4 linked regions of the Homo sapiens genome follow. The protein of the gene in region 2 purifies or fractionates together with the protein of the main gene of each other region. This does not show direct contact. Each region holds a gene or a part of one and is shown on either strand. Other genes may lie near its edges. The genes, in order: REEP5, GDE1, ATL3 and LRATD2.

Region 1 (7,035 bases), on a different chromosome or scaffold from region 2:
TCCTACAGACGAGACTCTGCAATTCAGAGGCCTCTTCTCAGTCTGTTCACTAGGTCATTCAGAGTATGCCACTAATGTAGGAAGAAAGTATTTTGATTGACAGCATCATGAATGTTTAATCCTTTCAAGTATGTTATCTATTTGGAATGTATGCAATAAATTCACTTTCATGAACACTATGATGCCATGCAGCTGGAGACTACTAATGGATGCACATTCATTTTACCATTAGGGAAGAAAGTCTGCTACAAAGCAATATTTTAAATGAACTTCAAAACCAAATATAAATGATTCAGTGACTACCATTTATTTTGGATCTTCTCTCTACCTCTCTGTGAACTCCATTAGCAGAGGTGATTAGGAGTAGGCTAGAAGTCAAGCTTGCTCACATTTGGAAGTCTGAGGTCAGAACTACTGCAAGTAGTTCTGCTGACAAGATAGTGTTCACTGCCACAAGCAAGTGGGCCCAAAGCAAAAGCCAATTTCTTTCCACTAAAGACTACTGTGAGGTCCCTACGATTAGATGGATCTTATTAAGGGCTTTAAAATTATCTGAAGTTTAAATTATGTCATGTCCAAATTAAAGATTGTAAGAATATTTTTATAAATGTTAAATGACTTTGAATAATAAAAACAAAAAAATCCAATCTTTGAAATCAACTCTTTCCACAGACCAATTTTTATTTTCTTCCATCAGTTTTGAAAGGAAAATTCTTAATTGCCTTACAAGGCATTCTGTGGTGAAGTCATTCAAAAATATAAAAGAATCTATACTGAGCATGTTTTCATTTAATTTTTTAAACTTTAAAAGACACTCACTTCATATAGTGTCTTGTCTTTTTTCTTTTTTAACCATAAATGGTGTGATACTGTATTTAATGTTCTATTACTTTTTTTCTTTTTCGAGACAGGGTCTCACTCTGTCACCCAGGCTAGAGTGCAGTTGGGTGATCATTGCTTATTGTAGCCTTGAACTCCTGGGCTCAAACCATCCTCCCACCTCAGCCTCCTGAGCAGATGGGACCACAGGCATGCACCACCATGCCTGGCATTTGTTTTTTGGTTTTCGGTTTTTTTTTTTTTGGTCAACATGCTGTGATCTGGGAGCCTGGTTAATTTTTAAATTTGTGTGTGTGGAGACAGGGTCTCACCATGTTGCCCAGGATGGTGTCAAACTCCTGGCCTCAAGCAGTCCTTCTGCCTTGGCCTCCGAGTATGCTGGGATTACAGGCAAAAGCTAGCACAACTGTCCTGTATAACTTTTCATAATTACTAAATTATGCAAAAATTTCTGGGTCTGTACATATGGATCTATTTCATTCCATTTAACTGTATGGATATACTATTAATTGAATGAACCATTTACCTGCTGATGGACATTTCTGTTTATAATGTTTACATTATGCAGTTCATATTATATACAGTTGACAACAAAAAATGCTGCCATGAATATCTTTGTGCAGCTCTTTAATGCACAGTGACTATTTCCTTAGAATTGTTAAGAGTATCATTTTTCAATTCAACAAGAAATGGTTAAAAGGTCCCTTAAAAAGGTTATTCAAGTTTATACCACTAGGCTGTTAAGTATCCCTTATGTGAAATGCTTGGGACTAAAAGTGTTTCGGGTTTCACATTTATTCAGATTTTGGAATATGTACATTATACCAACTGAGCATACCAAATCAGAAACTCTAAAATCTAAATGCTCCAATGAGCATTTCCTTTGATCATTATGTGGGCACTCAAAAAGTTTGGGGTTTTAAAGCATTTAGGATTTCCAATTTCAGATGTTCAGCCTGTACCATTACATGTCCATTTCCCTATACATTCACCAATACCAGATATTTTCAATCTTTAAAATATCTGCCAGTTTAATGAACAAAATATGGGATTTCACTATTTTAACTCACACTTCCCACATCACTGGTGAGCTGTTTACTAGCCATTCATATTTTTTCTCTTCCGTGAAATACTTAACTTAGAACCTTTTCCCATTTTCTTTTTCTTTTTACTTATGGAAATTGTTATGTATTCTGGATATTCCTTATTTGGTGTAAATGTTGTAAATCTATCTTCCTAGTCTGTCATTATTTTAACTTTGTTTATGCTGCCCACTGTCATATAGAAATTTAATTTTTAGAAATTTTTAGTTGAATTTATCAAATCTTTTTCTTTGAAACTTTTGTATTTTGTCTTGCTTCTATACCTCAAAGTTAAAAAATATTGTCCTCTACTTTTTTCTAAAACAGAGGTTTTGGCATAAAAGTCCTGTCTTTGCAAATCACTCAGGAAAACAGGTGGACACTAACTAAAGGCAGTTACTTCCCTACCCCTCCTGCTCCAACCCCTAGAGCTGTGAACTATAACCCAGGATCACTTCCTTTTGATGCTGCTTTGCTGGGGTAGAAGGGGACTGTACAGTGAAGCTTTGACCTGAGGAGCTCTTCTGTAGGTGAAGAGTGGTTAACTATGGTTCCTGTGTGCCTGGGGCCCCCCACTCCTAGGACTCATCCACCCCCTACCCAGAACTTACTAGTACTAGCATGGACTGGGGCCCCCTCCATTCCAGTGCCTGATGGGATAGCTGATACTCATGGATGAAAAGCAGTTTGTAGGCTAAAATAAAAAGATATTTTAAGAATATATTTCTTTTTTTTTTTTTAGAGATGGAGTCTGGCTCTGTTGCCTAGGCTGGAGTGCAGTAGTGTGATCTCGGTTCACTGCAACCTCTGCATCCCAGATTCAAGCAGTTCTCCTGCCTCACCTCCTGAGTAGCTGGGACTACAGGTGCACTCTGCCACACCCAGCTAATTTCGTTTGTATTTTAGTAGAGACAGGGTTTCACCGTGTTGCCCAGGCTGGTCTCGAACTCCTGAGCTCAGGCCATCTGCCCGCCTCGGCCTCCCAAAGTGCTAGAATTGCAGGCATGAGCCACCACGCCTGGCCAAGAGTACATTTCAAAAGAAAAACAACACAATCAACTACAAGTTTTGGTCAGGAGCAACAATATTAGAACTGCTGACCAAGAATTTTAAACTGGGGAGCGGTAACCATACTAAAAGAAATGAGAAAATATTAGCAATATGAAACAAGGACAAGAAGAAGAGAGCCAAGCAAAAACATTAGGTGTGAACAATATAATAGTTGAAATGAAGAACACGGTATATAGCAGGAATAACAGAATGGTTATAATGTAATCATGGAGTACAGTTGAAAATTAGATGGTCAGATTGAGTCCGGGCACGGTGGCTCACGCCTGTAATCCCAGCACTTTGGGAGGCCGAGGTGGGTGGATTGCTTAAGGTCAGGAGTTCGAGAGCACCCTGGCCAACATGGTGAAACTCTTTCTCTACCAAAAAAAATACAAAAATTGACCAGGCGTGGTGGCACATGCCTGTAATCCCAGCTACTCGGGAGGCTGAGGCAGGACAATCACTTGAACCCAGGATGCGGAGGTTGCAGTGAGCGGAGATTGTACCATGGCACTCTAGCCTGGGCAACAGACCAAGAGTCCATCTCAGAAAAAAAAAAAAGGAGGTCAGATTGAGAAATCTCCCAGAAGAAGTACAAATAAATAGATTTTTAAAAAAACCAACCCTGTCTCTACTAAAAATACAAAAATTAGCCAAGCATGGTGGTGGGCGCCTGTAATCCCTGCTACTCAGGAGGCTGAGGCAGGAGAATTGCTTGAACCTGGGGGGTGGAGGTTGCAGTGAGCCAAGATCATGCCACTGCACTCTAGCCTGGGCGACGGAGCAAGACTCCATCTCAAAAAAAGAAAAAAAAAAAAAAAGGCTAAGACCAAAGACAAAAAGAATTATATATCCATAATTAACCAGAACTAAAACTCAAGATACTACCATTTATGATGGTGGTTGGAGTGATGGAGCTTCCTATATTTAATTTCCTATATCTAAATTTCTTTAGATAAAATTGTTTAAAAGAGTAGCCAGGTGCAGTGGTGTGCGCCTATGGTCCCAGCTACTCGGGAGGCTGAGGCAAGTGGCTTGCTTGAGCATTTTTTTGTTTTTGTTTTTTTTGAGACAGAGTCTCGCTCTGTTGCCCAGGCCTGTCTTCTTGTTTATAATCTGAGACAGAGCCACAGATGCACAACATTCAAGCATTTATTCCTACTTCTTCTATACAGGTACTGAGATGGAGTTTTAGTGGTAGCAAGACCAACATACCTTCAGCATGTAGTAGAAGGGGAACCATGACAGGAAGATATCAGAGAAGAATTCAGCAATGCTGAACACACCATACACTACCCAGTAGGTCAGCCACTGGGTATCATCTTCTTTGTTGGGACTCTCTATAGCTTTAATTCTGAAAGGCAGTACAAAAGAAAGTATATCATTTGGTAAGATATCAATGAAAGATTTTCAAATACACTTTCATAACCTGTCCTCTGATACCACTGAGAAACTTAGGCACATGTAGGCACTGTGTCACTAGATGCAAGAGTACAGCTTAAAGACTGGAAGCAATGTGGATATCGGGACAAGCCATTATAACCACTTGTTTCTAGTCTCCTGGTCACCAGAGAAACCAGCACCAGCTGTTACTGCCCTGGATCTCCACCCTGCCAAAGCCTCCCCACAAGTCCTAGAATATACCACTAGTGACTGGGAGCTAGAGCAATTTCCACTCCCAAGCTGGGTCCTGCCACGAGGGATATATCAGGAAGAATTCTCTCGTGATAACCAGGTTCTTATGTACTTTTAATAATTGAGATATATCATGGGTGAATAAGAATTTCCCATAAAGCAACATTTGGAACATAGGTTAGGTACTGCCCAAAATCCACAGCATATTTTATAGTAAACGGGTGAAAACAAACCTCATGGTGTCTATTTAGTTCAGAATGTCTTTAACTGATCCACAGGCTATGGACTTTCCTCCTCTCCTCAGTTAATAACAGGACTTTCCCAACCCTAACTATTGCTTAAACAAAATTCATTCTGCAAATGGATGGAAATACATTTAAAATAATTTTCTAAATCACAGAAATTTCCTTCAGTCCTAGGAATCTCATTATTCTAAACCTGAAGCTCCACAATTTCTTATCCTAACAGATCTAGATATTTATCGTAACTGAGCTGGACTGAAACAGTAAAATAAAAGAACTCTGAATCTTGTTTAGCCTATGAAACAGGTTAACTACTGAAAATACATTGACAGGGAGCTAAGCTATGAGGATGCAAAGGCATAAGATACAATGGACTATGGGGACTTTGGGGAAAGGGCTGGGGGTAGTGAGGGATAAAAGACTACACATTGGGTACAGTGTACCCTGCTCAGTTGATGGGTGCACCGAAATCTCAGAAATTGCCACTAAAAACTTATCCATGTAACCAAACGCCACCTGTTACCCAAAAACCTATTGAAATAAAAAATTTTCAAAAAGCAAATACATTGGCTACTCCATAACATCAGCTCCCCAAAGAGACAGTCAGGCTGCTAAATCATGCTCAGTCACTCACTAAGAAAGCCCTTGTACAGTTAATTAGAAGCAGCTATGTGTGTGAGTTTTAGAAAATAACCAAAAGGGGAAAAATTGTAGCTCAATGAGATGATTACTAATGAGGAAGACAGAGAGAGGAACAAGTAATAAGGTGAATGTTGCTTTGAACTTCAAGACTAGGCAAAATTTTTATTTTTTTGAGACAGGGTCTCTGCACAGGCTGGAGTGCAGTTGCACAATAATAGCTCACTGCAACCTCAAACTTCTGGGCTTATGTAATTCCCTTCACTTCAGCCTCCCAAGTAGCTGGTACTACAGGTACACACCACCACACCTAGCTACTTGCTAAATTTTTAGTAGAGACAAGGTCTCACTGTGTTGCCCAGGCTGGTCTCGAACTCCTGGCCTCAAGCAATCCTCCTGCCTTGGCCTCCCAAAGTGCAGTCTGGTGGCTCCCACACCCAGCCCCAAATATTTCAAAGTACAAGAATCATATAAAATGAATTTAAGAGAGCTGATTATTAAAAAATGGCTTGTAATGTATGCACAAAGTCTGTATTTTTTTAGCTTCCTTCAGATAGAAGCTGGCGAATGTAATAGAAGGCCAAAGGAAAAGTGTAGACAAGCATGTTAACCAAAGAACACAGTATATCCTTTATGTGTAAGATTTCTTCTCCCGCTGTGTTTCATTTGGTATAGTATGGCTTATCCATATTTAATTGGATTTATTTAATTATTAGTATAATAAAAATTTGTTTCCTGTACATTCATTCTGGGCAGAGGAGATACGTAATTACATTTCACTCAAGGTCTTAGTTTTGTGAACGCAATAGCTCACAACTATGTACTTCCAAAAGAAGCAACTCTCAGGACACACCTGGGAATTAAACAGTCTTTTCTAGAATATGACGTAAAAACCTCAAAATGTGATGGGACTGTCATTGTTAATCCAGTGGCTTTTAAATTCTTTTGGCCACAACCCTCGGTAAGCATACATTTTACATCATGATCCAGTAAACAGACATCTTCACATAAAAATATAAACTTAAATAGATATTTCCTGAAACCATTCTGATATTTTAAATTCCATTCTATTTCATTATTTTTTAAATGTTAGTCAAGTTCCACAGATTGAAAAACAGGAAGCCTAACAGTTCAGCTCTTCTAGGAAAAAAAAATTCTTTTTTAATTCATATCTACAATATGAATTCTAAAGTCCCCATGTTAATATACTAGAACACTATATAGTAACATTGAAAAGTAGAAATAAAAGAACTCCAAATTGAATACATACACTGATCACAACTTTGCAGAAAACCAAGGCATATGAAAGAAGCCAGGAAAAGGCCAATGAGTCTATTAAGCTAAAGAGATTTTTTAATAGATCTTCTCATATTATTGAAGCATTTAATTGTTTTAATTTAAAATAGCACAATGTTCAATTTAAAAAATGTCTTTATGTGTCATAACAATCACAAACTACCCAAAACAAGAAAAAAGGGAAGAGATGGTCTAGCTCACTCAGGAACGTGAGGTTCAAAAAAGTGAAGTGCCCCATGTAGTCATGGTGA
Region 2 (3,941 bases):
CCCATCTCAGCCCCTATTTGTAAATTTTTTGTAGAGATGGGGTCTCACTATGTTGCCCAGGCTAGTGTTGAACAGCCTGTTGAACAGCTAGTGTTGAACAGAGGTATCTTTTTTTTTTTTTTTTTTTTTTTTTTGAGACAGAGTCTTGCTCTCTGGCCTAGGCTGGAGTGCAGTGGTACAATCTTGGCTCACTGCAACCTCTGACTCCTGGGTTCAAGCAATTCTCCTTGCTTCAGCCTCCTGAATAGCTGGGATTACAGGCATGTGCCACCATGCCCAACTAATGTTTGTATTTTTAGTAGAGATGGGGTTTCCCCATCATGGCCAGGCTGGTCTCAAACTCCTGGCCTCAAGTGATCCACCCACCTCAGCTCCCAAAGTGCTGGGATTACAGGTATGAGCCATCACGCCTGGCCTGATGTATCTTCTTTGGTCACTTTTTCCTCCTCCTTTCACTCTAGTCATAACATGGCACGGAAGTACATGCAGTTTAGACATTTGTTGCACTCAATGAACAAATCTTTGTTGTTTATTTTAAAATTCAAGACAATTTTTTTGCAAATGCTGATTCAAAACGTACCAATCCCCATCTATCATGCCTATGCCAATACAATCTGTCACAAAAAAGTTTGCTTCTCATTGTCACATAGCTATGGGGACTGGTGGCCTTCTAAAATCACTGTCCAGCTGCTGCAAGTGTGAGGCCAGCAACCCACGGCAGGGATGCAGGAGGGAAGCCATGGCTAAGCTGTGGGCCTGGACAAAGGCCACAGATGGGGTTGAAAGGTGAGAAGCGGTAAGCTAGAGGAGACAGACGGCGTTGCCATTAAAAACAATTCAACTTCATTTTAATGTTGCTATGTAAGTTCACAATAAAATCCCTGGAAGTTCAAATTGGAAAGAGCAGTTTGGGGTCATGGGCTCAACAATATAAAGGCAGATTCAGTGAGGGGTAAGGGTAGTGGCTCTGGGGGCAGACTGACCTAGATTTGAATGCCAGTTGTACCAGACTCAAGACACCTTGGGTAAGTGGTTTTATGAAGTACCTCAGTTCTTCATCAGTAGAAAGAGTGCTAACACCTCCATAAGACTTTTGTATGGATTGAGTAAGATAATGCATGTTAAACCACTTGTATAGTTTCTGGCTAACTGTAAACAAGATGTTCTAGAAGTTCTAGTTATCTTTTTTTTTTTTTTTTTTTTTTTTTTTTTAAGAGTCAGGTTCTCACTGTGCCACCAAGGTTGTAGTGCCGTGGTGTAATCATGGCTCATTGCAGCCTTGAACTTCTGGGCTCAAGTGATCCTCCCACCTCAACCTCCTGAGTAGCTGGGAATACAGGCATGCACCACCATGCCTAATTTTTTAGAGATGGGGTCTTGCTATATTGCCCAGTCTGGCCTCAAGTAATCCTCCTGCCTCAGCTTTCTGAATTGCTGGGATTATCGGCATGAGCCACTGTGCCCAGCTAAGCTGTGACTTTTGAGGCAACCCCTTCCCTTCCACAGAGTTTAGTTTCCTCATTTGTAAAATGAGGACAAACCTAGATATTTTTGGAAGTTTCTTCCAGTTCTAATTGCCTATGATCAGATCACATCTGTTGCAGAGCTTCCTAAAAAGCCTGGAAAAATGCAACTCTGCCCCCTGGTGGTTTGCAGCTCTCTATTCAAGATGCTATAAATCCCTCATTGGCTTCAAGACCTCCCTACCATTTTGGTTGCTGTACACTGAAGCCTCACTGGATTGCATGGTGGCTTCCCCAAATTCCGTATGCCTTAGGATATGATGCTTGGCACACAGTTTTCCTTTAGTGCTCCTTTTAATAATTTTATTAGTATGGCCACAAGTTTGATGTCTACAGTACATGTTAACATAGCTGAGTACAAATATTTGAAATAAGTGTGGCAAGTTTTAAAATGTCAACTCTGAGTTATCATGCATGTCCCATGCATTTACATCTGCATCTGCAAACTGTACAATTCAATCTGTGCTTATCCTCACTGGGTCTCCCTGTGTGCCTCAGCTAGGGCAGGGCAGGGGCTCTTGTGCGTTTTTTCAGACCCAGATTTTCAAGAGCAACAGTGTTGAACTCTGGCATGCCATGGTGCATGGTGGCAACACCGGGTTTAGCTTTGGTTCAGGTAAAAATGCAGTGACCAACTATTGCATTTGTGTGAGTCACCTGATTCCCCAGGGCCTGGGCTAGCACAAAGGGTATTTTGATATCCCTGTATGAGGCCCCTGGCAGTTTCTGAACCCGTTTCGTCCCACCGTGAAAGTCTAGAAGTGAGGTTCGCAGTCTTCTACCATGCTGTCAGTGATATAGCTGGAACCAAGATGGGATTCGTAGTAACTCTTTTCATCAAAGGTATTAACAGTCCAACCAACAACCTGGATTCCTTTAGCTGACCACTTCTTCAAGTAGGCCCTGGGGAAAGAGGAAAGCCAATCCTGTTAGAATAATAAGCAGCTGTCTCAGGAATCCATAATGGCCACTAAGTATGGTGTTCACTGCATACCAATGGTGCCCAGAGAATGCCTCCTAACTGGCCTCTGCACTGTGATCAGAGGGACTGTTCCAAAACCCAGGATGCCATGAACCTCCTCTACACTGTCCCAGCTTAAAACATTTCAGTAGCTCACTAATGATCGCCACCCCCAAATGTCCTTGGCACAGCCACTGAAGGTGTGCCTGACCTGGCCCCGACCTGTCTCCTTGGCTTCATCTCACACCACATTCCCCCTTTCTTTTCTGTGCTGATTAATTTTAAATTAATTGAAAGAATATTAATTTTCTTTCACTTCCTGGAAAGAACCATGTTCCTTCCTGCCAGAGCACATTACATGTATTTTTCTCTCTGATCTGGATTCCTCCCAATTCCCACTCACCCTTCAGATCTTAGCTTAACTGTCACTTCCTTGGGGATGCTGTTTCTGACAACCCAGACCAGATTAGATTATAGCCCATGCACAGTTTTCTCTGACATAGCCTGTATCTTAGTTTTAACTTTATATTGATTGGATTTTTATTTGATTAGCATCTCTCACTCTCCCACTTGGCTATAAACGTCACGAGGGCAGAGATCATGGCTTTGATTCTTTACCCACTGCATCTTCAGCTTCTCAACATGGAACCTTGCAATAGTATAGGCACTTACCAAATATTTATTGAACTGAATCATGTATGTCTGAAATAATACTAGACCTACAACTCTAATTAGCTGAAATATACAGATACAGAATTGCCAAAGAAATGATTCCGAGATCGCTAGCAGGTTAGGAAATGGAAATTTTATGGGGAGAGGTGGGGGAGTGCCTATAACATAAGACGGTAGTGGGGAGGCTGGTGCCCACAGGATGTCTTCACTGTGGTTCTGCCCAGGATCCTGTGTTGGCTTTCAAAAAAACCAGTCACAGAAATAAAATCCCTTGCTCAGCATAGTGTCACAGGTTCATTTTTTTTCTTCAAAATACACTAAAAAACCGAAAATATGTGATCGACTCGGTCTGAAAACAGTGAAATATGCCTGAACTCTTCCCACCTAAGAAGCGAAATTGGTAATCCAATTTAGAGGTATGGTAAGCTTTGCAGGTCAGAACCAATTCAGGTTGTCTACTCTGTTAATCCTTCCTTTCAAATAAGAGCATTCAGGATGTCTGTCTGGGTAAAATAAAAAACCTTCCAACTTACGGGGATACAAAATCCTTTTGCATGAGGAAAGCTGAAATTCCACACAGGTACCACAAGATATTATGCATGCTCCAATCGAGCAAAATGTCCATCATAACAAATATAAAATGTTTCCAGAAAGTATCATAGCGTGGTTTCCCATCTCCTGTATGGCTTAGGCTCCAAGGTCTGTGAGTTAATGCTGTTATTACATCCCGATCTGTTTGTCTCATCTGCAAAGGAATTTGGGGAAGTAAAATAATGATCATATGT
Region 3 (7,035 bases), on a different chromosome or scaffold from region 2:
TAGAAGCTATTAATTCTATAGTTCAAAATTAAGCACTAACTATATTATACTTTCCTTACCAGAGTTTCCCTACCAAAGCACAAAGATAACTAATTAATTTGAAATTCAGGCCAGGCACAGCATCCACGCCTGTAATCCTAGCACTTAGAGAAGCTGAGATGGCAGGATTGCTTGAGGCCAGGAGTTCAAGACCAACTTGGCCAATATAGCGAGAGACTGTCTTAAAGAGAAGAGAAGAGAAGAGAAGGCAAGGGGCCGGGCGTGCTGGCTCACCTGCGCAATCCCAGCACTTTGGGAGGCCGAGGCGGGCAGATCACCTGAGGTTGTGAGTTCCAGACCAGCCTGACCAACATGGAGAAACCCCATCTCTACTAAAAATACAAAATTAGCCCGGTGTGGTGGCACGTGCTTGTAATCCCAGCTACTTAGGAGGCTGAGGCAGGAGAATCGCTTGAACCCAGTAGGTGGAGGTTGTGGTGAGCTGAGATTGCACCACTGCACTCCAGCCTGGGCAAAAGAGTGACACTCCGTCTCAAAAAAAAAAAGTGAAAAGAAAGCAAGAAGGAAATTCATTCAGGCTAGACATGGTGGCTCACACCTGTAATCCCAGCACTTTGGGGGCCAAGGCAGGCGTGTCACCTGAGGTCAGGAGTTCGAGACCACCCTGGTCCAACATGGTGAAACTCCATCTCTACTAAAAATACAAAAATTAGCCGGGCGTGGTGGTGGGTGCCTGTAATCCCAGCTACTCCAGAGGCTGAGGCAGGAGAATTACTTGAACCTGCACGGTGGAGGCTGCAGTGAGCCAAGACCGTGCCACTGCACTCCAGCCTAGATTTCAGAGCAAGACTCTATCTCAAAAAAAAAAAAAAAAAGAAAGAAAGAAAGAAATTCAGAGCCACTTAGTAGCTGTGGACTTATGGGAAGTTCACAAAAAACTACCAGTGGGGCGTAAGGAATGAATAAAGAACTATTTCCCTAAGAGTATGTGTCACTGGTATTAAAGATGTTTTTAGGTAGTTAAAAGGACATAGTAATTTTAATAATTATGCATGTTAATGTATACTTTAAAACAACAAATCTGTATTTTGATAAATTATTCTTTAGAAGGATGCTAAGTTTAAGAAGTCTGTTTATTTATTTAAGACAAGGTCTGGCTCTATAACTCAGGCTGGAGTGCAATGGCACAATCTTGCCTCACTGCAACCTCTGCCTCTCCGGCCCAAGTCATCCTCCCACCTCAGCCTCCCAAGTAGCTGGGACTACAGGCATTCATCACCACACCCAGCTAATTTTTGTATTTTTGGAGAGACAGTGTTTCACCATGTTGCCCAGGCCCGTCTTGAACTCCTGAGCTCAAATGATCCACTCGTCTCAACCTCCCAAAGTGTTGGGATTACAGCGACACCGTACCCAGCCAAGAAGTCAATTTAAAGTCGACTTAAGGAGACATATTAAGTAAAGCTTAGTACTGACAGGCAGACATGGCCAAAATCACAGCGACACAGTACCCAGCCAAGAAGTCCATTTAAAGTAGACTTAAGGAGACATAGTAAGTAAAGCTTAGTACTGACAGGCAGACATGGCCAAAATCACAAAGATGGTTCCAAAATGACTTTGTCTAACCAGCACTGAAGGCTACACGATCATGGCAGGCAAAGCAGACAAAACAGTTTGACTGCAAGACTCTCTCCCCTTCAAGCTACTGGAATTGCTGCTCACTTTTTACATTTATAGTATCAGATAGCAACAGAAGGGTTCTTCGCACTTTTTTTTTTTTTGGAGACAGTATTTTGCTCTGGCACACAGGCTGGAATGCAGTGGTGCAATCCTAGCTTACTGCAGCCTCAAACTCCTGGGTTCAAGCAATCCTCCCACCTCAGCCACCAGAGTAGCTGGCAGTACAGGTGTGTGCCACCATGCCTGGCTAATTTTTTAATTTTTTTGTAGAGATGGGGGTCTCATTATGTGGCCCACATTAGTCTCAAACTCCTGGGCTCTAGTGATCCTCTCACCTCAGCCTCCCAGAATGCTGGGATGATAGGCCACTGTGAATGTGGATGATAGCCACTGTGGCTGGCTTCTTCCTACTTTTTAAGTTTTTGCAGACTATTGGAAAACAAGTTATAAATATAGGTTAAATGTCATGCTATCATTGTAATCAATGTATACTAATACTTTTCTTTCCTGTTATTGCCTGGATTAAAAAGGAAACACTTCTGTGAATAATCTCTTAGGGTTCTTATTGCCCCAGCAGCAGGTAAATCCAAGATCCAAAGACCTTCAGTCTTTCATACAAAGAACTAATGAGAAGAATTTATTCAGACTTCAGGGATAAGCCACAGTGTTAAGTACTGTGTAGCACTCAAAGAAATACAAAACAAAGTCTTGATTGTGGCAGAGATGTCTGGTTGTTCCCCCAATATTAATTTCTCCCTCCTGCTATATAATAGATTTTTAGCTGGGCATACAACTGCCCAGAAGAAACACATTTCCAACCCAAATTTATAGCTAGGATATGACCAGGTGACTAAATTCTGAACAATGGGAAGTGACTGGAAATAACAGACACAACTTCCAGATCAGGCATTTTCCCCCTGCTTGCTGGCTAGATGTAAAAGTGGGAGTGAATCATCTTGGGCCAGGCATATGAGGGCAACACCCCAGGAATGCTGGAGAAACAAGAGAGGTCAGATTTCGTATAGCAGAACTGCCATATTGGTTCACTTCTGTGTGAAAGAAAAATAAATGTCTACCTTGCTTAAATCACTTATTTGGAGGCTCCATCAAATACAGCCAAGCCTAGCAGCCAACACAACAGTCTTCCAGGACTTTACAATTAAGTTCATCATACCAGATCTTTTTGTTTTATCTATTTCACTATTAAAAGTTTACTGAGCGAGGCCAGCCTCGGTGGCCCATGCCTGTAATCCCAGCACCTTGGGAGGCCGAGGCAGGCAGGTCACTTGAGGTCAGGAGTTCGAGACCACCCTGGCCAACATGGTGAAACCCCATCTCTACCAAAAATATAAAAAATTAGCTGGGCGTGGTGGTAGGCACCCGTAATCCCAGCTACTCGGGAGACTGAAGCAGGAGAATCGCTTGAACCCGGGAGGCAGAGGTTGCTGTGAGCCAACATTGCGCCACTGCACTCTAGCCTGGGCAACAGAGCGAAACTCTGTCTTTTAAAAAAAAGCGTACTGAGCAATGTGAATGTAATGAGCAATATCAATGTAATGACACACAGCACATACAATAAGCTATTGTTTTTTTGTTTTTTTTTTTTGAGACGGAGTCTCGCTCTGTTGCCCAGGCTGGAGTGCAGTGGCGCGATCTTGGCTCAGCGCAACCTCCGCCTCCCGGGTTCAAGCGACTCCCGAGCAGCTGGGACCACAGGCATGCACCTCCATGCCCGGCTAATTTTTGTATTTTTAGTAGATAGAAGGTTTCACCATATTGGCCAGGCTGGTCTCGAACTCCTAACCCTGTGATCCACCTGCCTCAGCCTCCCAAAGTGCTGGGATTACAGGCGTGAGCCACCGCACCCGGCCAATAAACTATTGTAAAATGAATGAATGACATGTACCATAATGTGGTTGAAGGCTACAACCCAAAGGATCCAAGTGGCATTGTCAGAGCAGTAGACATGGAAGATAAAGTTACGTGGTTACAAGATGGGGTAATCCAATGATAAGAATGTATACAGTTGAGACTGGGCATGGGGGCTCATGCCTGTCAATCCCAACACTGGAAGGCCAAGGTGGGTGGATCACCTGAAGTCAGGAGTTCAAGACCACCCTGACCAACATGGAGAAACTCTGTCTCTACTAAAAATACAAAATTAGCTGGGCGTGGTGGCACATGCCTGTAATCCCAGCTACTCGGGAGGCTGAGGCAGGAGAATCGCTTGAACCCCGGGAGGCGGAGGTTGCGGTGAGCTGAGATTAAGCCATTGCACTCCAGCCTGGGTGACAGAGTGAGACTCCATCTCAAAAAAAAAAAAAAAAAAGAAGAATGTATACAGTTGTGTACAGTGAACTGCACTTCAAGAGAAGCTGAAGACTACTGAGGACAGCTATGGGGGAAAAGTCCTTACTCATCTCTTCCTCTCCCTGTAGCACGGTACCCAAGAATAAAGGAAGGGAACCAGGCTCTGTTTAGTTGGAAGAGCTGGGGTGATTCTGCATTTCTCTTCACACCAGTAATATAAGCATGATTATCAACACCCACCAGATTAAAAAAGATCTTGTTGGCCAGGCATGGGAGGTCTCGCCTATAATCCTAGCACTTTTGGGAGGTTGAGGCAGGCAGATCACCTGAGATCAGGAGTTCGAGACCAGCCTGGGCAACACGGCGAAACCCCATCTCTACTAAAAATATGAAAATTAACCAGGCTTGGTGGTAACGCGCCTGTAATCCCAGCTACTTGGTATCACTTGAACCTGGGAGGCAGAGGTTGCAGTAAGTCAACCACTGCACTACAATCAGGACAACAGAGCAAGACCCTGTCTCAAAAAAAAAAAAAGATGTTGTTCACTGACAGTGATCCTTGGGTTTGGGCTTATGTAAGGGAAGAATTATTTTGAGCTGTACACACCAATAATGCAAGTTAAATGGAGCTGCTTATATATTACACCTTTTTTAAGACTGGGTCTCACTCTGTTGCACAGGCTAGAGGTGCGGTGGTGCAATCATGGTTCACTGCAGCCTCAACCTACCGGGCTCAGGCAATCCTCCCACCTCAGCCTCCCAGTATCATCTCACTGCAACCTCTGCCTCCTGGGTTCAAGCAATTCTCCTGCCTCAGCCTCCTAAGTAGCTGGGATTACAGGTACCCACCACCACGCCTAATTTTTGTATTTTTAGTAGAGGTGGCGTTTCACCACCTTGGCCAGGCTGGTCTCGAACTCCTGACCTCAGGTGATCCACCCGCCTCAGCCTCCCCAAGTACTGGGATTACAGGCGTGAGCCACCGCGCCCGGCCTACCCTCTATTTGGATGATACAACTTCACAGATCTCTAACTTGCATTTAGTCTAAATGTACAACTGCCTAAGGGACAGATTCACCTGCTTACTCTCAGAAGTAACCTGTGGAAATATACAAATTTAGGACTCAAAACACAAGTTCCTGTTCCAGCCCTGCCACTAACAACCTGTGTGATCCTGGGCATGTCTAGTTTTCAGTTTCATCACTAAAATGGGTCAAGTGCTAACTGGGTGTGGTGGCTCATGCATGTAATCCCAGCACTTTGGGAGGCCGAGGGGGGTGGATCGCACACCGTGCGATCAAGTGATCTATCCACCTCAGACTCTCAAAGTGCTGGGATTACAGGCATGAGCCACCGTGCCCGGTCCACTTGTCAGGAATCTTAAACTCTGGAGATCTAGTCTCCGGGGAGGGTACTAAAAATATCTGTAAGTGGCAACTTTACATGCCTTGTCCCTTTAGAGAAGCAATTATTTTCCAAGGTCTAATTCTGCATACTGCAACAACAGTTAATGCTGTATTACATTACTTACATGAATATGGATAACGTGATGTTTTTGCACAGACACAAAGCTACAGCTGGACCACTGTTACATCTATCATTCATATGTATTTATGTGAATTTACAACATATGTTTAAAATTCCAGAAATAAACAATTCGTAAGTCTTAAGATTGCAACGCAGTTCTTAGTACCATGATGAAATCTTGTGCTATCCTGCCTGGGACATGAATCATTCCCTTTTCCAGAGTATCCACACTGTATATGCTACCATGCCCATTAGTTATTTAGTAGCCTTCTCACTGATCAACGTAGTGTATACAGGGCTCAGTGCTATCAGCAGTTTCAGGCATCCACTGGGGGCCTTACAATATATGCCCCTCAGATAATGGGGACTACTTCATTGCTGTAAATAGCTCATGATAATATTCTATCACTCATCAGTTCAAGTATGTAGAAAATGTTGAAAATCTTTGTATAATTAGAAAGCATTTTTTTTTTTTTGAGACAGATTCTTGCTCTGTCGCCCAGGCTGGTGAGCAGTGGCGTCATTCCTGCTCACTGCAACCTCCACCTCCCAGGTTCAAGTGATTCTCCCACCTCAGCCTCCCAAGAGTTTAGGATTCCTGAGAAGTGGGCCGGGTGCAATGGCTCACGCCTGTAATCCCACCACTTTGGGAGGCCAAGGCGGATGGATCATTTGCAGCCAAGAGTTTGAGACCAGCCTGACCGATATAGTGGAACCCTGACTCTACTGAAAATTCAAAAAAATTGGCCAGGCGTGGTGGTGCATGACTGCAGTCCCAGCTACTCGGGAGGCTGAAGCAGGAGAATCACTTGAACTTGGGAGATGGAGGCTGCAGTGAGCTGAGATCGCGCCATTGCACTCCAGCCTGGGTGACAGAGCGAGACTCTGTATCAAAAAAAAAAAAAAAAAATGACAGTGTAGACTAGGGTTTCTCAACCTCAGCACTACTGACATATTGACATTGGAGCTGCACAACTGTTGTGGGGGGCTATCCTACGCACTACAGGCTATTGAGCAGCATCCCTGGCCTCTACCCACTAGATACCAGTAACACTCCCCACAACAGGTTCTAACACCCAAAAAACGTCTCCAGTCATTGCTAAATGCTCCAGGGGCAGGAAGAGGCAATATTACCATAGGTTAAGAACCACTGAGTAGAGTCAGCCTTGGTGTTTATCCTTACCATTCAAAGAGTTCTGAATACAAAGTAACCAACCAGTCACAGAAACACTTTGCTGAGTAGATTCATGTATGACTCAGGGTAAAGTTATGACCTGAGTTTTCCAGTCTCCTTATAAAATATCATATTCTCCAAAGGGCAAGAGCAACACACCCAAAACAGAGGCATACCATTTTCATGCCTTGTTCTTGCTGGCAGTCTTTAAGGTTTCTAACTGACAAAGCCAGAGAAAACATCATCACAGGCAAGAGTAAGTATACTAAGACCTTAGCCAACTCTAGAACTGCTGGGTGTGGTTCCTTCTGGTGGTGGAGGGGTGGGTGCTTTTATATACCGTT
Region 4 (7,299 bases), on a different chromosome or scaffold from region 2:
CAATAGATACTTTATGGAGTGGCACAGCCAACCCTATCTGTGACCTGCCCTGCGGATAAACACAGCCAAGCAGGTTTAATTAGATCAAAGACACAAAGGGCTATTCCCTCCTTTCATAACAACGCAGCTGTAAGTGCCTACAACAGCAGGGGAGAAACAAAGGCAGCAGAACAGAACCTTAATTGAAACCTTCCCCTGGCTGGCCCTTGACAATGATTTACTTGTAACCTAGGAAGGGGCGGGTGGAGCAGGAGGTAGCAGGAGCCTCAGCTAAGAGCCAGCTCCAGAAGGCTAATTACTTGGGGGTTGTGGAGGAGGGAGGTAGCAAAGTCTTTGTTTGTAGCCCGAGTTTGCTTAACTATTTGTTACACTTAATAGGAGGCTGCTGTGGTTTTGGTCTGCTGCTCCCGGACCTTGTCATGGATTCACCAGCCCTGCGCTCCAGGAATCCCATAAAATAAATCACCCCAGCCTCCTGGATCCCATACACAGCTCAGCTCCGCCAAAGCAGACAAGCAGCTTTCGTGCTGGTCCCGCAGTGGCGACTCCACAAACCCACTCTGGCCTTTCTACCAGGATTCTTCCAAGCCCAGGATAGGAAGCAACGGCAGGAATGGGTACTCCGAACTTTCCCCCAACCCCACGTGCTTAAGAATGGCCGATTATAAACCCAGATCTACCAAGGTTTAAGTGCCAGGCAAGTCCACAGTTTGCTCCACCGCGGAGAGGAAGACAGACAGGGGGCCAGAGGGAGACGCCCCCCACCCCCAACTAAAGTGTTTCCTACCTGCTCCCTCTGTCCCCTTCCTCCTCCCCCGTCCACAGCCGGCTGCGCATTTCACCAACTCTTTTCCAAAGGGCCCAGGAATCCCAGATGGGGCCCAGACAGTGGCAAAAGAGGGAGGAAGAGAGGGAGAAAGGGAGCAGCGGCTGCTACTGCAAACAGTTCCCCTTCGCAGCTCTGCGCTCAGCTCGCCCATCAGTGTGCCACTGCCTCTCCGTCCTCCTCCTCGGAGCTGGGCGCAGGGGGGCGCCCGGGAGGCGGCGTAGTCCGCGCCACGTTGCTGTCGCCCTCCTCCGGCTCCGCCGGGTGCAGGTGCGTGGCGAGCTCCTGCAGCACGGCCGCGCGCCCGATCTGGTCGTTGCGTCGCTTCTCCATGATCAGGTCCTCTAGACTCTGGAACTCGAGCGTGTGGCTGCGCTGCGCCGACAGCTGAATCTGCAGCCGGTAGGGCTGCTTGCCGATGCGCAGCTCGCCGCCGATCTTGAACTCGCGCTTGCCGTAGCGGCACCAGGCGGCGAAACTCTCCGAGTTGCGCCAGCTCAGCTCGCGCTCCTTGGCACCCACGTGCGCCAGCGCGTTGCGCACCACGGCGCTGGAGCTTAGCGGCTTGTAGCGGTACAGATCGTTGACCACGCGGCCGCGACGGCCCTGGCTGGCGTCAGTCAGGAAGCTGTTAATCACCTCCAGCCGGTGCAGGTGCACCACCTGGAAGTTACCCACATATACGGCCCAGTGCGGGTACTGAGCCTGCGACACGAACTCCACCAGATCGCCCGGCTTGCACTTGTTGAGCAGGTTCTCGGGCGTGTAGGTACTCAGCGCCGCCGAGCCCGGCGCGAAGCTCTTCTGGTAGATGCATTCGTCCCGGTAGAACACGGAGCATTCCACCTCGTGCAGCCGCGGATCGTAGGGCTGCGGCTGGGGCGGCGGCGGCCCGTCCCCACCGTCGGGCAAGCCGCCGCCATCTGGCCCCTGAGGCGGCGGCTGCGGCTCCACGTCCTCATCGTCATTGGAGAAAATGTAGGAGACCCCAATGCGGGGCCCGTCGTCCCGGTCCACGCCAGTCGGGTCGGCCGTGGGAACTTCCTTGTAACTTAGGTGGGTCAATTTCTCCACCTGGTTGCCCATCACGCTGCGGACACACGTTCACACCGCCGCAAGGGGAGAAAGCGAAACCAACTCCAGGGTCATTTGCACAGGTCCCCGGACAGGGGCTGAGGCTACCTGTTGGGAGAGGAAGGCAAGAAAGCCATGCAGGAGCCCCTCCGTGAAAAGGGCGTTTTGTTCCGAAAAAGAATCGGTGGGGGCTCAGCACCTGGAGCCATTTTAGGGGGAAGTCTCGGGTGTAGCGAGCTTTCCCTCGTTTCTCCACCTGTAAGGTCACGGTCACAGGAGACTGGGCAACTCCTGTTCTCCCTGTCCCCAGCCCTTCGCCTGGCCCTGGCAAAAGCCCATTGCATCAGCAGCTTCTACTGCTTCCGCCTGCGCCCTACCTGCCAAGCTTGGGCAGGAAGAGGGAAGGAAAGAGAAACTTTACGCCAATCCCCCCCCTCCTCTGCTAACTTCCCCTCCCACCCTCGGGCCCTAACTAGCCCCGGGGACGCCTCCTCCCCACCAACGCATCCATCCCCAGAGGAACAAGCGAGGATCTCAGAGCGCGACCTGGACAGGTGAGTCACCCTACCTGGCTCACCTGCAGCGCTACCTCCTCCCGGCTCGCCCGCCCTTCCCCCGCGCCCGCCCTCAGGCTCGGGTTACCTGCACAAACTCACCCGCGGAGAGGTGAAGGCCGTGGGGCCTGGGGAAGGGCTCCCTGCCGCGCCCCGAGACTTCTAGGGCGAGTTTGAAGGTGTAGGCTCGGCAGTCCCTCCTCTCCCGGCGCGGGCGGCAGCGAGGCTGGGCAGAGGGCAGCGCAGCGGGCAGACTAGGGGCATGTCTTTCCCCCGCGGCTGCGTAGCGCCCCGATACTTGAAGGCGGGGGGCAATCCCTGTTCACACCGCGCTTCCTCCCGCCAGCTGGGGCTGCTGCCCCTCCTCAGCCAGCTCTCGGGGGAGGTGGGGCGCGAGGAGGAGAGGACGGCAGCCTCGCAGCCTGGCGGCAACAGCTCCCGCTTGGGCCGGGCGAGCAACAAGCACCGGAGCTGGAGGGACGGGATTGTAGATCCGGCTCCGGGCTCCCGGGCGGGAGCGCAGCCCGTGGCATTTAAAGAGACAGGCGCTCACTCCCCGAGCTCGGGTCTTTTTCACATTGCGCCGAGCGGCCGGGAGCCCCGCCCCCGCCCCGCCCACTCGGGCCTCGGGACTCCGCCCGGCCACGCCCCCGCGCCGGAGCGGGTTTAAATCCCCCTGTAAATAATCCACCCGCCGCCTGGGGCTGGTGCTGTGAGCTCTGCTTGCCTTCCGAGACAAGTTAGAAGGCAAACACAACTTGCCAGTGTGGAAATGAGAAAGGGAAGGAGAGTTTGGTGTTTGCGCCTTTTCCCTTTGACCTGTTTTTTCCCAGAGTACCTGGAGAAGGAGGAACAGTCGTTTCTTTTCTTTCCTGGAACATATTTCTTGCCCTAAAGGTCACAAGAAAGGATTCTTCACCAGGACAGCTCGAAGAGTGCGTCATCCTAGAGGTGTTTTCAGAGTTAGTAGTGGGAAACTTTGGGGTAGAAAAGAAAATCGCAGAAAAGAAACAGTATAAAACAGAACGAAGACTTATTCACTGACTGGGTCCCAAGACCACCGCTCTGTTTATTAGATACCCCTGGAAGTTAGTACAAAGTTCATAACCTCCGTTATTTCCAGAGAGGTACCAGTTCGTTGGATAGTGAGAGAAGCGTGCAGCTCTGACTGCTTTTTTTTGGGGGGGTGGGGGGTTAGGGGATGTAGGAATTGCCTAATTCCTACATCCTAATTCTAATTGTCCTTAAATTAGAAACAAATTAGCAGAGGCCCTAGTGGATATATTTCCTTCCTGTTGACTTAGGGAAGTGACAGGAGACCAGTAATGCCTACTAACCTCCACCACAAAAGGACACTTCCACCTCTCCACTGGTTTCGTTTCTTTTACCTAAATGTAGGCTACCAAAGTGTTTTTTTTGTTGTTGTTGTTGTTTATTTTTTTAAAATAATGGGTCCGGTGAGGGTGGAGGATTAACAGCTCTGTTTACAATAAACAAGTTTAGGCACTACTGCAAGCACCCAGACTTATTCGTAGGGGACTTAAGAATGCGATTCAAGACCTATATTCTGTCTTCAGTTGCTTTCTTTTGACTAATTTTTTCCAGCATGTATAACCAGCCAGTGGAAACAGGAATATACTAGCACTACTGTGATCCTTTCTAGTTTAGGAGAAAAAAATAAAAATCATTCTACTTATGTAATTTTGAGTCCAAACAATCAATATTGGCAGGGCTGTGATAGAAATTAGTCCTTCAGCAAGTCTGAAGTATAAGTTAGATCAACATGAGACTACTGTGTGCTGTGCGATTCTGTTTCAATAATTTCAGACTGGCTGGCCTCAGGCGCATGTGACTGAATGAATCCAACACACCCCAGTCCTTTTGATAGCAAATGGTGTGGGGGGCTGCTGTTACCTGAGTGATATTTGTTGCCATCATATGATCACCATATTATAGACAAGAGTTAGGCTTATAGAGATTATGGCTGGTCATCCTATGTTCATCAGATTGGGAGACCTCTGCTACTGCCTGATTTGGGAGGCCACTTTGCTCCTAGGTGCTACTGGGATGGCTGGGAATGGGAGAATTGAACTGAGAGGACACAGTTGTAGGACAATTTGCTACCAGCACTCTAGGTCAGAGATCTGGTGGGTGAGGAAGCAATGCCTAGCTGACTAGGTGTGTCTCCTTTTGTCTTGATGAGCTGTTCTCAGGTGCACAATAGTGGCTCAACAACATATCTTGAACTGACCAACTATAAAGCCTCAGAGGGAACAAGCCCTGATCCATTTTATATCTGAATGCCTGGCACTGAGTGGGTACTCAATAAATGCTTGATGGATGCCTTAGGGGAAAATTTGGCCACAGGTCAAGAATTGCTTCCTGGTTTTATGGGGCTGTGAGTGAGTGAGTGAAGAAATGTTGCCTTTTGATAGCTGGCGTCTAGTGTAGATTCTTCCATGAATGCCTGTTGAGGGTTCAACATCCGTCTTGTCACCTGGAACATTTGGTCAGAGATTACAACATGGCTCTCAGACATGCTTTGCTCATTTCAAATAGTTGTTTAATAAATTTAAGCTTGTTGTCAACAATTTGAAAACTTGGGAGATATTAAAAAATTCATATTCCCAGTTTCATTTGAAAAATCTAAAGATATGAGACTTGGCTGGGCGTGGTGGCTCATGCCTGTAATTTCAGCACTTTGGGAGGCCAAGGCAGGATCACTTGAGATCAGGAGTTCGAGACCAGCCTGGCCAACATGGTGAAACCCCATCTCTATTAAAAATACAAAATTAGTAGCCGGGAGTGGTGGGGTGCGCCTATAATTCCAGCTATTCAGGAGGCTGAAGCAGGAGAATTGCTTGAACCCGGGAGGCAGAGGTTGCAGTGAGCCGAGATCACGCCATTGCACTCCAGTCTGGGTGACAGAGTGAGACTCTGTCTGTAAATAAAATAAAGATATGAGACAATCAGACCCATATTCCAGGATGGCAACAAATTGCTGGAGAGAAGTGGTAGTTGCCTTGCGGGTGAACTATATTCTCCAGTTGGATCCAGTCCCTGTCCCCCACACCTCACGTACCTAGGTCCCTTGCCTGGTCCAGGAAGCTCTCTGTTGGCCACCTTTGCCATCCAATACCTGTACTACACATTTTATTACCTGAATATGTGTAACTCAGCACTTGATCATATACTATCTGGTATTATTCTCTAATTCATGTATTAAAGTTCATATTCTAATTAATATATTTATTCATGTCTTTTCTAAAGAGGACTTGGTTCAAAATACATTTCATGAAGACATACTGGGTGCCTGCTAGTCTTAATCACTGTGCATCCAATTCTACAATGGGCACTGTGCTAGGTTTCTTAGATGTTCGTGTCCCCAGGTAGTCACCATATTGGAGGAGACAGAGAAATAAATAGACTCTTTGGGACACTGTGACATGTCCTGTAATAAGACATAGAGGATGCTGGGGCGGTAAGGTGATGTTTCAAGGCATGGTGGATACAGAGATTAATGACCAAGTGCCTGCCAACAGGGTCTTGGGCTCATCGGGGAAACACAACTCTAAAATTAATAACTCCCATGGAGTGAGCTCTTGATTCTTTTATAAAGGAGAAGAAAGGTTAGAGAGGCCATGGCTTCTCCCAGCTGGTAGGTGGAAAGATCACACAAGCCCACTTTACTTCCAGGCCCATGCTTTTTGTTTTGTTTGTTTGTGTGTTTGTTTGAGATGGAGTCTCACTCTGTCACCCAGGCTGGAGTGCAACGGCGTGATCTTGGCTCACTGCGACCTCCACCTCCCGAGTTCAAGCGATTCTCGTGCCTCAGCCTCCCGAGTAGCTGGGACTACAGGTGCCTGCCACCACACTGGGCTAATTTTTTTATAAGTTTAGTAGAGATGGGGTTTTGCCATGTTGGCCAGGATGGTTTTGAACTCCTGACTTCAGGTGATCTGCCCACTTCAGCTTCCCAAAGTGCTGGGATTAGAGGCATGAGCCACTGTGCCCGGCCAGGCCCATGCTTTTAACTTCTTTGTTTTAAATAGAATCCAACAGATTCTACAATATTTAACAAATATTTGGGTGTCTGGGTTTACCAGACTCCAAGGATACAGTTGTGGATGTAGCAAGCAACGTCCCCGCTCTTATGGCTTTTACATGTTGATGAGAGGAGGCAAATAATAAATAAGTAAATGAATCAATGGAAATATCTGAGAGAGAGAGAGCAGGGCTATGAAGAAGGTAAAATAGGGAAATGGGATTGAATAGCTGTCAGTAAGGAGAGGGTAATGGGGGTGGCCTACTTGGGTTAAGATGGTCAGGGAAGGGCTCCTGAGGAAATAGAAATGAGCAGAGACTTGAAGGATGAGGAGCCAGCCTTGATATTACCTCCAGAGGGAAGACCAAGAGCAAAGGTTAGAGGGGGAAAAGACTGGAAGTGATTAGGAAAAAGGAAAGACTACAGTTGTGACCAGAGTACAGTGAGTGAATGTAGCTATGACAGGAGGTGCAGGTAGAGAGGTGGGCGAGCCTTTGAGTTTAAGGGCATCCAGGCAGCTGCCCTACAGGAAATGGACTGCAGGAGCAAGAAAGGAAGCAGGTCCCACAGAGGCCTGGGCTGTGGGAGGAAAGGCATCCCAGGCAGATGGAGGCTGGAGGAAAGCAAAGAGCAGGCTGGGAAAATGCCTTCCCCAAGAGCAGCAGTTCGATAAAGAAATATTAGTTGGGTTTGAATTCTCAGCCATACGGCAGCTTCATCCCCCCAACAGTGACCCGAGTGTCACATCCCACACACCTCTTCGGAGGAGGCACTCAATAAAAACAAGTTGTGTTGAATGC

The links.
Region 1: the proteins of GDE1 (region 2) and REEP5 purify together in Homo sapiens (affinity purification with mass spectrometry; 3 studies listed by BioGRID and IntAct, with this or other methods). This does not show direct contact.
Region 3: the proteins of GDE1 (region 2) and ATL3 purify together in Homo sapiens (affinity purification with mass spectrometry; 3 studies listed by BioGRID and IntAct, with this or other methods). This does not show direct contact.
Region 4: the proteins of GDE1 (region 2) and LRATD2 purify together in Homo sapiens (affinity purification with mass spectrometry; 3 studies listed by BioGRID and IntAct, with this or other methods). This does not show direct contact.

Annotation. Positions count from the first base shown.
Region 1 is NC_000005.10:112,898,193-112,905,227, forward strand, and holds part of REEP5 (receptor expression-enhancing protein 5), read right to left. Parts: intron 4,327-7,035; coding exon 4,188-4,326; intron 180-4,187; exon of another isoform or gene 1-179. UniProt on the Homo sapiens protein: Plays an essential role in heart function and development by regulating the organization and function of the sarcoplasmic reticulum in cardiomyocytes.
Region 2 is NC_000016.10:19,501,192-19,505,132, forward strand, and holds the end of GDE1 (glycerophosphodiester phosphodiesterase 1), read right to left. Parts: intron 3,902-3,941; coding exon 3,690-3,901; intron 2,427-3,689; coding exon 2,279-2,426; 3' UTR 502-2,278; downstream 1-501. UniProt on the Homo sapiens protein: Hydrolyzes the phosphodiester bond of glycerophosphodiesters such as glycerophosphoinositol (GroPIns) and glycerophosphoethanolamine (GroPEth), to yield a glycerol phosphate and an alcohol.
Region 3 is NC_000011.10:63,661,355-63,668,389, forward strand, and holds part of ATL3 (atlastin-3), read right to left. Parts: intron 1-7,035. UniProt on the Homo sapiens protein: Atlastin-3 (ATL3) is a membrane-anchored GTPase that mediates the GTP-dependent fusion of endoplasmic reticulum (ER) membranes, maintaining the continuous ER network. It facilitates the formation of three-way junctions where ER tubules intersect.
Region 4 is NC_000008.11:126,555,478-126,562,776, forward strand, and holds the start of LRATD2 (protein LRATD2), read right to left. Parts: upstream 3,002-7,299; 5' UTR 2,557-3,001; exon of another isoform or gene 2,009-2,556; 5' UTR 1,913-2,008; coding exon 980-1,912; 3' UTR 1-979.